Linked DNA regions of Homo sapiens: region 1 is reported to be linked to region 2. Evidence: microRNA targets listed by miRTarBase, many of them from high-throughput screens and not tested one by one. Region 2 holds a microRNA gene; the other region holds the end of a gene's coding sequence.

Evidence for each region. Region 2 holds the annotated microRNA hsa-miR-615-3p (UCCGAGCCUGGGUCUCCCUCUU, at 1,263-1,284, opposite strand). A microRNA usually pairs through its seed, bases 2 to 8, with sites in the 3' UTR of a target mRNA and lowers its output. Matches are read on the target gene's strand: a 7mer-m8 pairs with bases 2 to 8, a 7mer-A1 pairs with bases 2 to 7 and ends in A, and an 8mer does both.
Region 1: the mRNA of MTSS2 is a reported target of hsa-miR-615-3p. The part of its 3' UTR that is shown has no 7-base or 8-base seed match.

What each region holds. Positions count from the first base shown.
Region 1 is chr16:70,659,469-70,664,527 of GRCh38, forward strand. It overlaps MTSS2 (MTSS I-BAR domain containing 2), which reads right to left. Exons shown (of 15, transcript NM_138383.3): 15 at 1,736-4,981. The coding sequence ends at 4,209. IL34 (interleukin 34) reads left to right here. Exons shown (of 6, transcript NM_001393494.1): 5 at 150-285; 6 at 529-1,214. The coding sequence ends at 719. Among named protein-coding and RNA genes, the nearest start is that of IL34, 15 kb to the left of the region's middle.
Region 2 is chr12:54,030,221-54,035,293 of GRCh38, reverse strand. It overlaps MIR615 (microRNA 615), which reads right to left and starts at 1,344; the gene lies at 1,249-1,344. HOXC6 (homeobox C6) reads right to left here. Exons shown (of 2, transcript NM_004503.4): 2 at 4,471-5,073. It overlaps HOXC5 (homeobox C5), which reads right to left and starts at 2,244. Exons shown (of 2, transcript NM_018953.4): 1 at 1,718-2,244; 2 at 1-1,016. The coding sequence starts at 2,171. The coding sequence ends at 802. It also overlaps a transcript of HOXC4 not described here. RefSeq lists a silencer at 1,146-1,205 and enhancers at 1,289-2,440, 2,435-2,729.

The DNA of each region.
Region 1 (5,059 bases), not on the chromosome of region 2:
GTGAGAAATAGCTATCCAGGCTCATGGTCACAGGAAGTCTGGTCCTTCTTCCGGGGTTTGGGCAGCTCCAGGTGACTGGACAGCCCTCACGGCTCTCCTGGGGTGCGGCCCCATCTCGCCACCGCTCCTGACTGTTTCCTCCTTTCCAGGATGTGGAGGTCAGCCCCAAGGTGGAATCCGTGTTGTCCCTCTTGAATGCCCCAGGGCCAAACCTGAAGCTGGTGCGGCCCAAAGCCCTGCTGGACAACTGCTTCCGGGTCATGGAGCTGCTGTACTGCTCCTGCTGTAAGGAGCTCTCAGGGGATGGCGCCTGGGGGTGGGAGGCCAGGCATCTGGGCCCACCCAGGCCAGCTGGCAGAGCTGGCGTCCTCCCGGGCATATCCTCTGCTCCCCGGGGCTACAAGCCATTTCTGGAAGCCAGGATGGGCCCTGGGTAGAGTGGGGGACAAGCACATGCGGCTTGGCTTAGTGGGGAGGGTGGTCTTGAACACTGCTGCAGTCTTTTTTTTTTTCCCCTATCTCTTGCAGGTAAACAAAGCTCCGTCCTAAACTGGCAGGACTGTGAGGTGCCAAGTCCTCAGTCTTGCAGCCCAGAGCCCTCATTGCAGTATGCGGCCACCCAGCTGTACCCTCCGCCCCCGTGGTCCCCCAGCTCCCCGCCTCACTCCACGGGCTCGGTGAGGCCGGTCAGGGCACAGGGCGAGGGCCTCTTGCCCTGAGCACCCTGGATGGTGACTGCGGATAGGGGCAGCCAGACCAGCTCCCACAGGAGTTCAACTGGGTCTGAGACTTCAAGGGGTGGTGGTGGGAGCCCCCCTTGGGAGAGGACCCCTGGGAAGGGTGTTTTTCCTTTGAGGGGGATTCTGTGCCACAGCAGGGCTCAGCTTCCTGCCTTCCATAGCTGTCATGGCCTCACCTGGAGCGGAGGGGACCTGGGGACCTGAAGGTGGATGGGGACACAGCTCCTGGCTTCTCCTGGTGCTGCCCTCACTGTCCCCCCGCCTAAAGGGGGTACTGAGCCTCCTGTGGCCCGCAGCAGTGAGGGCACAGCTGTGGGTTGCAGGGGAGACAGCCAGCACGGCGTGGCCATTCTATGACCCCCCAGCCTGGCAGACTGGGGAGCTGGGGGCAGAGGGCGGTGCCAAGTGCCACATCTTGCCATAGTGGATGCTCTTCCAGTTTCTTTTTTCTATTAAACACCCCACTTCCTTTGGTTTGCTTTGCTTTGCATCTTCAGGGGTGAACCTGGCGGGGATGGGAGGTGGCCAAGTGCAGGAAGTGGAGGGGGGCAGGGCTGAGGATGCGGATTTGGAGTGGATGGAGCCTGCCCAAGGGATGTGGAATGAGAGGGATGCCAGGGATGGAGTTCCGGCCCAGCCCAGCCCAGCCCAGCCCAGCCCAGCCCAGCCCAGCCCAGCCCAGGGGCCTCTGCAAGCCTGGGTTGGGGGAGGCGGTGTTGGGCTGATACCTTGGCTTTGACCCTTGCCATCCTCCCTCCCTCCCTCCCTCTCTCCCTCCCTCCCTCTCTCCCTCCCTCCCTCCATCTGGCTGCCCCCAGGCAGCCCCTAGCAGGGACACATATGGGACATTTCAGAGACCCAGGTCTGGCCCTGGCACCTACATTGAGATCTGAGATCCTCTGGGAACCCCCAGCCTGTCCCCCTGCAGCTGGGATCTGGGGTGGGAAAGGTGAGGTGTGGGGATGGGGTAGGAAGCAGCCAGGCAGAGGCAGGGGTGTTAATTACAGTACACCTTTATTAATACTGGAATCTTCACAGTGCATCTGTTACTTGTAGCAGTGACTATATTTAAATCGGGGAGGATGGTGTGGAGGGGGCGGGGAGGAGAGGAGAATTTTTCCAAAATCTGACGGAAAGAAAAGAAACAAATGGTTCAGATGGGACGGAGGGTGGGGGAGGGGGGGAGGGTGAGTAGGAACCAGGAGGGCTGCCTGGGGTGGGGGAATAAATTAAAAAAAGGAACGAGTTAACAACAGCACCAGGAAAGTTACTTCAGTCAAAAGACGCTTTTGAAAAGAATATTTCTCCGTACAAAATGAGAAATTAAACGAACGTAAAGTCCCCCAAACCAAAGTTTGTGATGTGGGATGGTTGGCTCGGATCCCGAGGTGGGTGGGCCTATGAGGTGGTTGCTAAGTCGACGCAAGGGCGGCGGGGGTGGTCTCAGGGATGGACAAGGGGATGGAGTAGAGTATGTACAGCCCCCGGGGCTCACAGGGGAGGGGGACGGCGGAGTCGGTGGGGGCTGTGCCACACGAGCCCCCCTCTCTGGGTAGCCCCTGCCTCCTTTCCCATCAGGACCTCTGACGCCCAGGTCTGCCCACCCACTGCCCCTCACTCTATTCCCACCACATCCTGAATCCTGCTCCACCGCCCTGCCTCGGAAGACCCCTGCAGCCCTGGGGAGAATGTGTGGCGGAAATTCTACCCAAGACTCCCCAAATAATTGGTCACCTGCTCTCCTGGCCCCTAAAACCGGGGCTCTGGTGTTGGCCTGAGCTCCACGGGCTGAGTGCTCGGCCAGGCAGTTGTTGAACCTAGTGACTTACTTACAGGGACCATTCTTCATCAGCTCCCTCTGATGGGACTCTGTCCACATCAGGGCCTGCTTGGTGCCCGGACCTACCCAGGAGCTGCCCAGCTCACCGCACAAGAACTCCCAGGAGCTCAAGCCTGGGAGGCTCAGACCCAGCTCCATTCTATCAATCAATCAATCAATCATCAAGACCAAGGTGCTCCTGACCCCCAGGTAGGACCCTGCCCTGGGGCCACGATGCCCTCTGAGCCCTGCTTTCCCTCCTGACCTGCGGGGCCACCAGGACTCCCTCCGCTCGCCCTAGGCTCACGTGCTTTTACCTGCTGAGACTTGGCGTGACTTGGTGCGTGGGGTGGGGGCAGCCTTGCCCCTCCCCTTGCCCCCGCTGCCACCACGAGCCTGGACTACAGTGGGGGCCGTGCTGGGATGGCATCTCCTCCGGCAACAGAGAGTCAAAGCCAATCTTCCCAGACTCGCTCCCCCACCTGGGCTTGCAGCCAGCTCAGACCACAGCAGACAGGCCGGGAGCCTCCCAACCTTATTTTGGCTACGCTCGAGACACTGGAGAGAACAGTAGCTTCCACCGGGCTCTGGGGGAGCCAAGTCCCTCCCTTCTCATCCTGCCATAGGACCACCGGGGGGTCCCTGTCCCCCAGGCACTCCCAGACACACACCCTGTATCGTCCCCTCTCCCCCACACTTAGTCCTCGTCCACAGTCAGCTCCATTTTATTATATTCATAAAATGACCCCACACCTCCTACTGCTCCAGTCACCCCCCGAAAGGTGGCTAAAACTGTGACCCCCAAAGTTAAAAGATTGATGTACCCAATGAGAAGTGGACATCTGAAAACGGTGCCTGTGTGGCTGGCCGGTGACCCCAGGGCCTCCGGCCTCCTAACCCTGCTGCCCTAGTTTCCAAAGAGCTGCTCTGGCCCCCTCCAGCCAGCCTCACGGGGTGGGGGAGGCGAGGGGTGGGAGCCACCACAGGGCCCCCAAGACCCCCCCCCCCAAGCAGCCCCTGGTTTCCTCCCTGAGACTTGGCGTGGGCCCTGGAACTCCCTTCCCACACGGGGGGCCTGGCCGCCCAACTCCAACCTGCCGCCCTGGCCCCCAGCCCCCAGCAGACATCCAGCCCAGCGTGCACCTGGCCCCTCCACAGCCGCCCCGCCTCCTGGAGGGAGAGGGGCCTGGGAGAGGCAGAGAGAAGGCAAGAGGGGAGGAGGGGGCTCAGGCAGGGGAGAGGGGGGCCAGCATTCCAGGAGGAGCTGAGGCAGGACCAGCCCTGGGAGAGGCCGGGATGGTGAAAGGGAGGCCAGCCTGGCCCCTCTGTCATGGGCAGCGGCCCTGGCTCTGGTGCTTATGGGTAGGGAAGAGGCAGGGCCCCAGAGGAGGAAGAGGAGGGACCGAAGAGCATAAAACAGACCCCGAACCAGGCCCAGGCCTGCAGGCTCCGTCCTGGCCAGGCTTGCTAAGAAGTCACTTCCTGTTTAAATGCTGGAATCCAAGTGAGGTGTCTTTCCATAAAGTGGCATGGCCTCTGCCCTGGCTCTGTCCTCTCTCCTGGCTGGGCCTTTGCTCTGAGTGCCTGCGGCTCACAGACCAGGCCACCTGCTCGCACTGGGGCCTGAGAGGATGGGGAGGGTGGCGCCATCATAAGATGCGGGGCGCCGACCTGTCGTTGGTGACGGTCCTGCGGAGCCGGACCCCACGCCGGATGGCCACCAGCATGTCTTCGGCCGGGGGGTCGCTGGTGGCGGCTGGGGGTGGGGTGGGCGTCTCCTCCGTGGGGGTGGCCGACAGAGCAGTGGGGAAGGGGAACTGGCCCTCACCCAGTGCGTGGGCACCCGCCACCAGCTCCCCCAGCTTCTCCACCAGGCTGTGCCGGTTGGCCGCCAGCTGCTGCTGCTCGTCCTCGGCCCCTGCCCCGGGGTACCCGGCTGCCTCTGGGGATGGGCTGCCCCAGGCTGTGTTGGGCAGGCTGAGCCTCTTTGGGGAGGCCTTGGCGAGGTCCGGTGCCAGGGGTGAGGCGGTCTCGTCGGTATAGAAGACGCACTCCTCACTGCCCGCCCGTGTGGGCCCCATGTAGCCGGGGGAGTCAGGCACCGTGGGCGTCTTCACAGGGACGATGGGCGGCCGGATGGGGATGGGGCCAGCGCTGGACAGGGCGCGGCGCACGGTGGGCTTGGTGGAGGGTGTGCGGCGGATGGTGGCCACGCCGGGGGGTGCGCCCGAGGGCAGGCCAGTGGCCGTGGGCAGCCCCGCGGTGGGCAGCCCAGCAGTGGAGGCTGGGCGCTTGGTCTGGATCAGGCGGCGGTAGTTCTGGGCGATGTTGCTGTTGCGCGGGATGGTGGATGACTTGTCAAACTCGGGCGGGCCCTCGCTGTCCGCATCCCCATTCACGGAGTAGCAGTCGTAGTCGGAGCCTGGGGGCACGGGACACAGTGAGGCCCAGGGCCCAGGTGGCCCCTTGCCCCCAGCCCACCAGGGTGAGCACAGAGGGG
Region 2 (5,073 bases):
TAGTTGGACAACAGCAATGGGTCAGGAGGGCACAGAAATTCGTGGCAGGGACTATGGGACAGCAAAGGGCCTCTAGGACCACTTGCTGGGGTCCAGTGCCAGGAAACCCCACTAGTTGAGCTAGCTAGCAGGCTGGGGCTGCCGGCCTGAGAGGGCATGCAGCAGGCGCAGGCTGGGGAGGTTCCCGGGTTTTGGGGGGAAGAGGTTGTGGAGATAAGGTTTGGAAAGCATAGAGCAACTGTGGGGGCCCTAGGCCGATGCTCTCCTTTCATATGCAAATCATTCATAAGTGAAAATCTAGTTTAGTCGCTACAAGGAAGCACCCCGAGTCTAGGGCCAGACTCTCGCCAGCCTTTGGCTGTCTAACCCGTCCAGCCGGGAACAAAGGAGAGGGCGAGGTTAGAGGGTCCGGCGAGGGTCCTGTGGCGCGGGCCGGGCCCACCTTAACTCGGGAGGGCCGCGCTGAGGCTGGGAGCCGGAGATACGGCCCAGGCCAAGGTTCGTTCTGCGCCAGCCTGTACGCCGCAGCCCTCCGGGGAAGTCCTGCGGAGCTTGCCCTGGGCCCCGGGTACCGAGCTGAGCCGAGCTGAGGGGAGATGGGGCAGCGCCGACAGCCCCGCGGGAACCCTGGGTCGGTAGGGATGCGGAATGCCAAGGAAAAGCGCTTTTGTCTGTGGGGCCCGGGAGCCCAGTGCTCCAGCACCTGCCCCCGACCCGAAATATAGAGAGGAAAGGCGAAAAGGAAAGGCGCAGGGACAGGAACCGGCTAGGGGCGCGCTCTGCGGGCCTCCCCCGCTGCCTCTAAAGAGCCTCTTTGCTTTTCATTTTGGAATCTTTCTTCCACTTCATCCTGCGGTTCTGGAACCAGATCTTGATCTGTCTCTCATTGAGACACAAGTTGTTGGCGATCTCTATGCGCCTGCGGCGAGTGAGGTAGCGGTTAAAGTGGAATTCTTTCTCGAGTTCCAGAGTCTGGTAGCGCGTGTAACTGGTTCGGGACCGCTTGCCGTCCGTCTCTGGAACATAAACCCCACCCCAAGCCAGGAAGGGGTGAATAGCTTGCAGCGTTCCCCCGTCCCCACCCCAGCCCAGGCCCCCACCCGCGGCCGGAGGGAGAGGAGGCGAGAGCCGCAAGACAGGCCACGCGGGCCGCAGGCGGGCCAGCCCAGCCCAGCCCCGGGAGAGGCGCCTCCGCCCAGGCAGGAAACTTTCCACCGCAGCCTTCACTCTGCAGCCGGAGGGGCTGAGGGGGGGTTGGGGGGAAGAGGGAGACCCAGGCTCGGACCGAACAATAAGCACCCTCGAGATCCGAGCACCGGGGACCCCCCTCCCGCCCCTCCCGAGTCGCTGGAATCCTCCGGAGCCGCAAGCGCCGGCGGAGCCGGCTCCGCAGGGGAGGGAGGGAGGGAGCCGCGGGGGGATCCCCGCTCTGGAGCCCCGCGCTCCTCACCCTTCAGATCCCTCTATTTTTTTAACTCCCTCCCTCTCCCCCAAAAATTGAATATTGCCTTTTATACACGTTTTGTTCCTATGATCCAATTATGTCGTCGTAAATTTGGGCGCACACAGCCTCTAAGCCTTTTAGTGGACAGTTTTACGAGCCATTGATGCCTGGATCGTAAAATTTATGGCCGCAGGTTTTTTTTCTTTATTTGCCCCGCATGGCCTATAAAACCCAGGCGGACCCGAGAGCGCAAAATGAAGTCCTAAAGTTTACCGTGGCTCATGTGCAGTTTGGTCATCCACGGGTAAATCTGTGGCGGGGCCGGTGGCTGGCTCAGTCCGGCGGGCTGCCCTGTCTGCGCCTGCTCCTCTTTGATCTCCCCACTGCTCTTAGCTCGCTCCTCCAGCGCCGGGCGAGCCGCCTTCTGACTGTACATCCCGGGGTTCAGAGGAGCCGCTTCGTCTCTGCCCGGAGCGTGTCCCGGAGCGGCCGCGGCGCTGCAGGCGGGGCGGTCGGGGTGAGCCCGGGGGTTGGCAGCCATGTCTACCCCGTGGAGAGAGTTGGAAGGCGCAGGCGGTGGGAAAGTGATGCTTAAGTCCAATCCGCCGTAGCAGTACCTGGATGCCTGCACCTCTGAGGCCGATCCATAGTTCCCACAAGTTTGCATGTTATAGGCAGGGATATTGGGGCTCTGCTTATAGAATGAATTGGCTACGTAGGAGCTCATGGCGGGGAGGGCCCAAAAAAATTTCTGCACCCTTTTTGATTAAGGGTGATTTGTGACTCTTTGAAGTTGAGGGGTTTTTTGTTCTCCAAAGTGGACAATTTATAGGTGGAGATATCTCTTTCTTTATCCTATGCGCTCTTCCCAAATAAGGGAGCCTTAAATAGAGTCACGTGACTCGAGCGGCCACTCATAAATTTGGCTTGATGACCTCCGGGAGGTTAGTGATGGAAGCCGGCGAAAAGCATCTCGATATGTTGGCAAAGCCCAACCAAGGGGGAGAGGGAGTGAGAGAGAGAAAGAGGGAAGGGGGAGGGAAAAAAAAAAAAAGGTTCTTGGAATTGGGGGTAGCCGGGACAACAAGCCCACAGCGACACCTGGTGCCTATGTGGGGGAATTGCATCCTGGAGCGCCAGCTTGCTTTCCGGTGGCTGGATTTCCTACACTGTGAAGGAGAAGCTGGTTGTTGGGGCAACCCCTGAGCTAGCCTTTTAAATTCTATTTAAAATTGGGAAAAGACGAGGCCCCACTTATAACGCACAGAGTGCTTTTTGTAATGAAAGTCCCGTTCTCCCAACCTCCAGGGTCTTCCAATCTTCAAAAATGGCTGAGGAAAGGGGATTAAGTTAGGTAAGGTGGCCTATGCCCAGGCTGGAGAACCAATGGGGTTTAACTTAGGTTCCCTAAACCAAAGGTAGAAGTCCCTTGCCTCTCAGGCCCTAAGGCTCCACTACTGCTGAAGAGGTGCCTATCAGCAAGAGAAAGTAGAATTAGCTTCTGAAGAGGTAGACAGGACGCCCAGGAGGAGGGATCCTGAGTGGTCAGAACAAGATAGGGGGGTCATGAAGCTGAGGGTGTTGCAGGCTGTTTGGGATGGATCTGGAGGTGAGGAGCCAGGTGGAGTTGGCTAGACCTCACCATGCTAGGGTCCCCAGAGTGGCAACAAGGCAATTTTCAAGTGTGTGTGTGGACACGGACAGAGCCAGACAATGGTCTAGAGGACTGCTCTGTTTCCCTGTGTGCGATCCTTATGTGGTACCTATGCCAGAGGTTTTAGACAGAAAATAGATGTTAATTGAGGACATGGAGAAGCAAGATTGAAGCCTCCACAAATATTACGTGAGCATGGCAGAGGAAAAGGCCCGTTATGTGCCCTTTGGGGAAAAGGTCTCTGGGCTAGGCTTTCCAGGGACCTGAATCCATAAGGTTCACAAGAGAGCAATTTCTGAGCTACCAAGAGGAATGGGGCGGACCTGGGGGGTGGGCAGGGCAGGCGCCTGGGTAGCCTTCGCAGGGTATCTGCAGCCATTCGGCCCCATCCTCTTCCCCCGTAGCCCCAAGTCTCATACTTCCCTGCCTGCTTCTTCCCAGGAAATCTCCGCCCCGCCAGGAGAAGGCCCCCTCCTCACTGGTGGAGGCACTGGAGGCGAGGGTGGGGGCGCTGGAGGGAATCTGAAGGGCCCGGAAAACTCTGGCGGATTTTTTCCCTCCGGAGACCCTCCTCAACACCTCTCCCTGTAGGCCCACTCAGGTTTCTCTGGCCAGGCTTGGAGAGAGAAGGCCAGGGTTGATAAATGGTTAGGGTCCGGCTGCGCTCCTCACCCGCCTCTTCACCCGTTTGAGGAGAGAAAAGTAAGGAACCAGCCCGGCTGGAGCTGTAATGAAGAAGGAATTTTGTCCCGGCCACGTCAGGAGTACCAGAGCAGGCGAGAGCTCAGTTTCCAGGCTTTCTCTCTCGAGATGTCCTTGAATCGCTCAATCCCTGCCGACAGGGCTCCAGTCCCGCGGTCTTCTCTTTCCCTCCGCTCTCCGCCTCCGCTACGTTTCGCAACAGCCAGCTTGGCGCGGGCCTGGGGCTTGCTCTCACGGCGCCCCCCGCCTCCAACTCCCGGGAGTGGGTGGAGGAGACCCTGGTGCCTGGATAGTGCTTCTTTACTGGTCTTTCGGGGCGCCTCAGGGTTCGGACGCCGAGGACACCGGCTGCCACAGGCAGGAAGAAAGGCCTGCGTGGGGTTGGTGCCCAAACCGACTGATCCCAGCTCCCCCCGCAACAAAATCCTACGCGGCTTTTTCCCGCAGGGTGTGTGTGTTGCTCCGCGCAGGGAGCCCAGAGAGGCCTCCCAGCCCCTCAGTGCGATCGCGAGAACGAACAGAAGGCCGGGGCCGGGCGCCTGGGCTCCGGGGAAGGCGAGTGCAGAGGGCTGGGGGCTTGCAGGGGGCCGGCAGGCGCGGGAGCGCTTGGAGCCTGCTCCAGCTCTCACCCTGAGGCCGGCGGGCGAGCGAATTAACAGAATTCCCGGTATAAAGTTTTAAAAATAATATCAGTTTTATTAAATATTCGAGAACGGACCCAGAGGTTGGATTTATACAGGAGGGTAACACGAAGGGATTTATTTATTTATTTATTTTCTCCTACTGGCTAAACAAACGTCATTCACTTTTTTTCTCTCTTTTTGTAATTTTCCCTCTTTTTTTTCCTTTTTTGAAATTGGATAGGAACACTGACGGTGCTAAACATAAATATAAATACAGAGACCACAAATACAGCTAAAAATCTTCACACAGAAACGGTCACAGTTTGTAAAATGCCATAATGACCCCCAGGATTCTTTAAATACAATTTGCCTGGGCTGGGCATTTGCTGGGGCAGAGGGGCTAGGCAGGGACTGCGGGGAGGCCCTGGGGGTTGGTGTGGGGCCAAGGCGCGCCCTCCTTGGGCCTCCGGCCCTCCCCGGCTGCCAGGCCGGGCCCTGAGGCCCTGGAGCAGAGGCCCCAGCAGGCCCAGGAGCCGGCTCTCTGCACGGGGGGCGGGGGTGGGGGCGTCGAAGGAGTGGGGGAGCCAAGTCCTCACTTGGAGGGCAATCTGTAGAGTCTGAGTTCAGGGTCCGAGCCCCCAAGGCCTGGA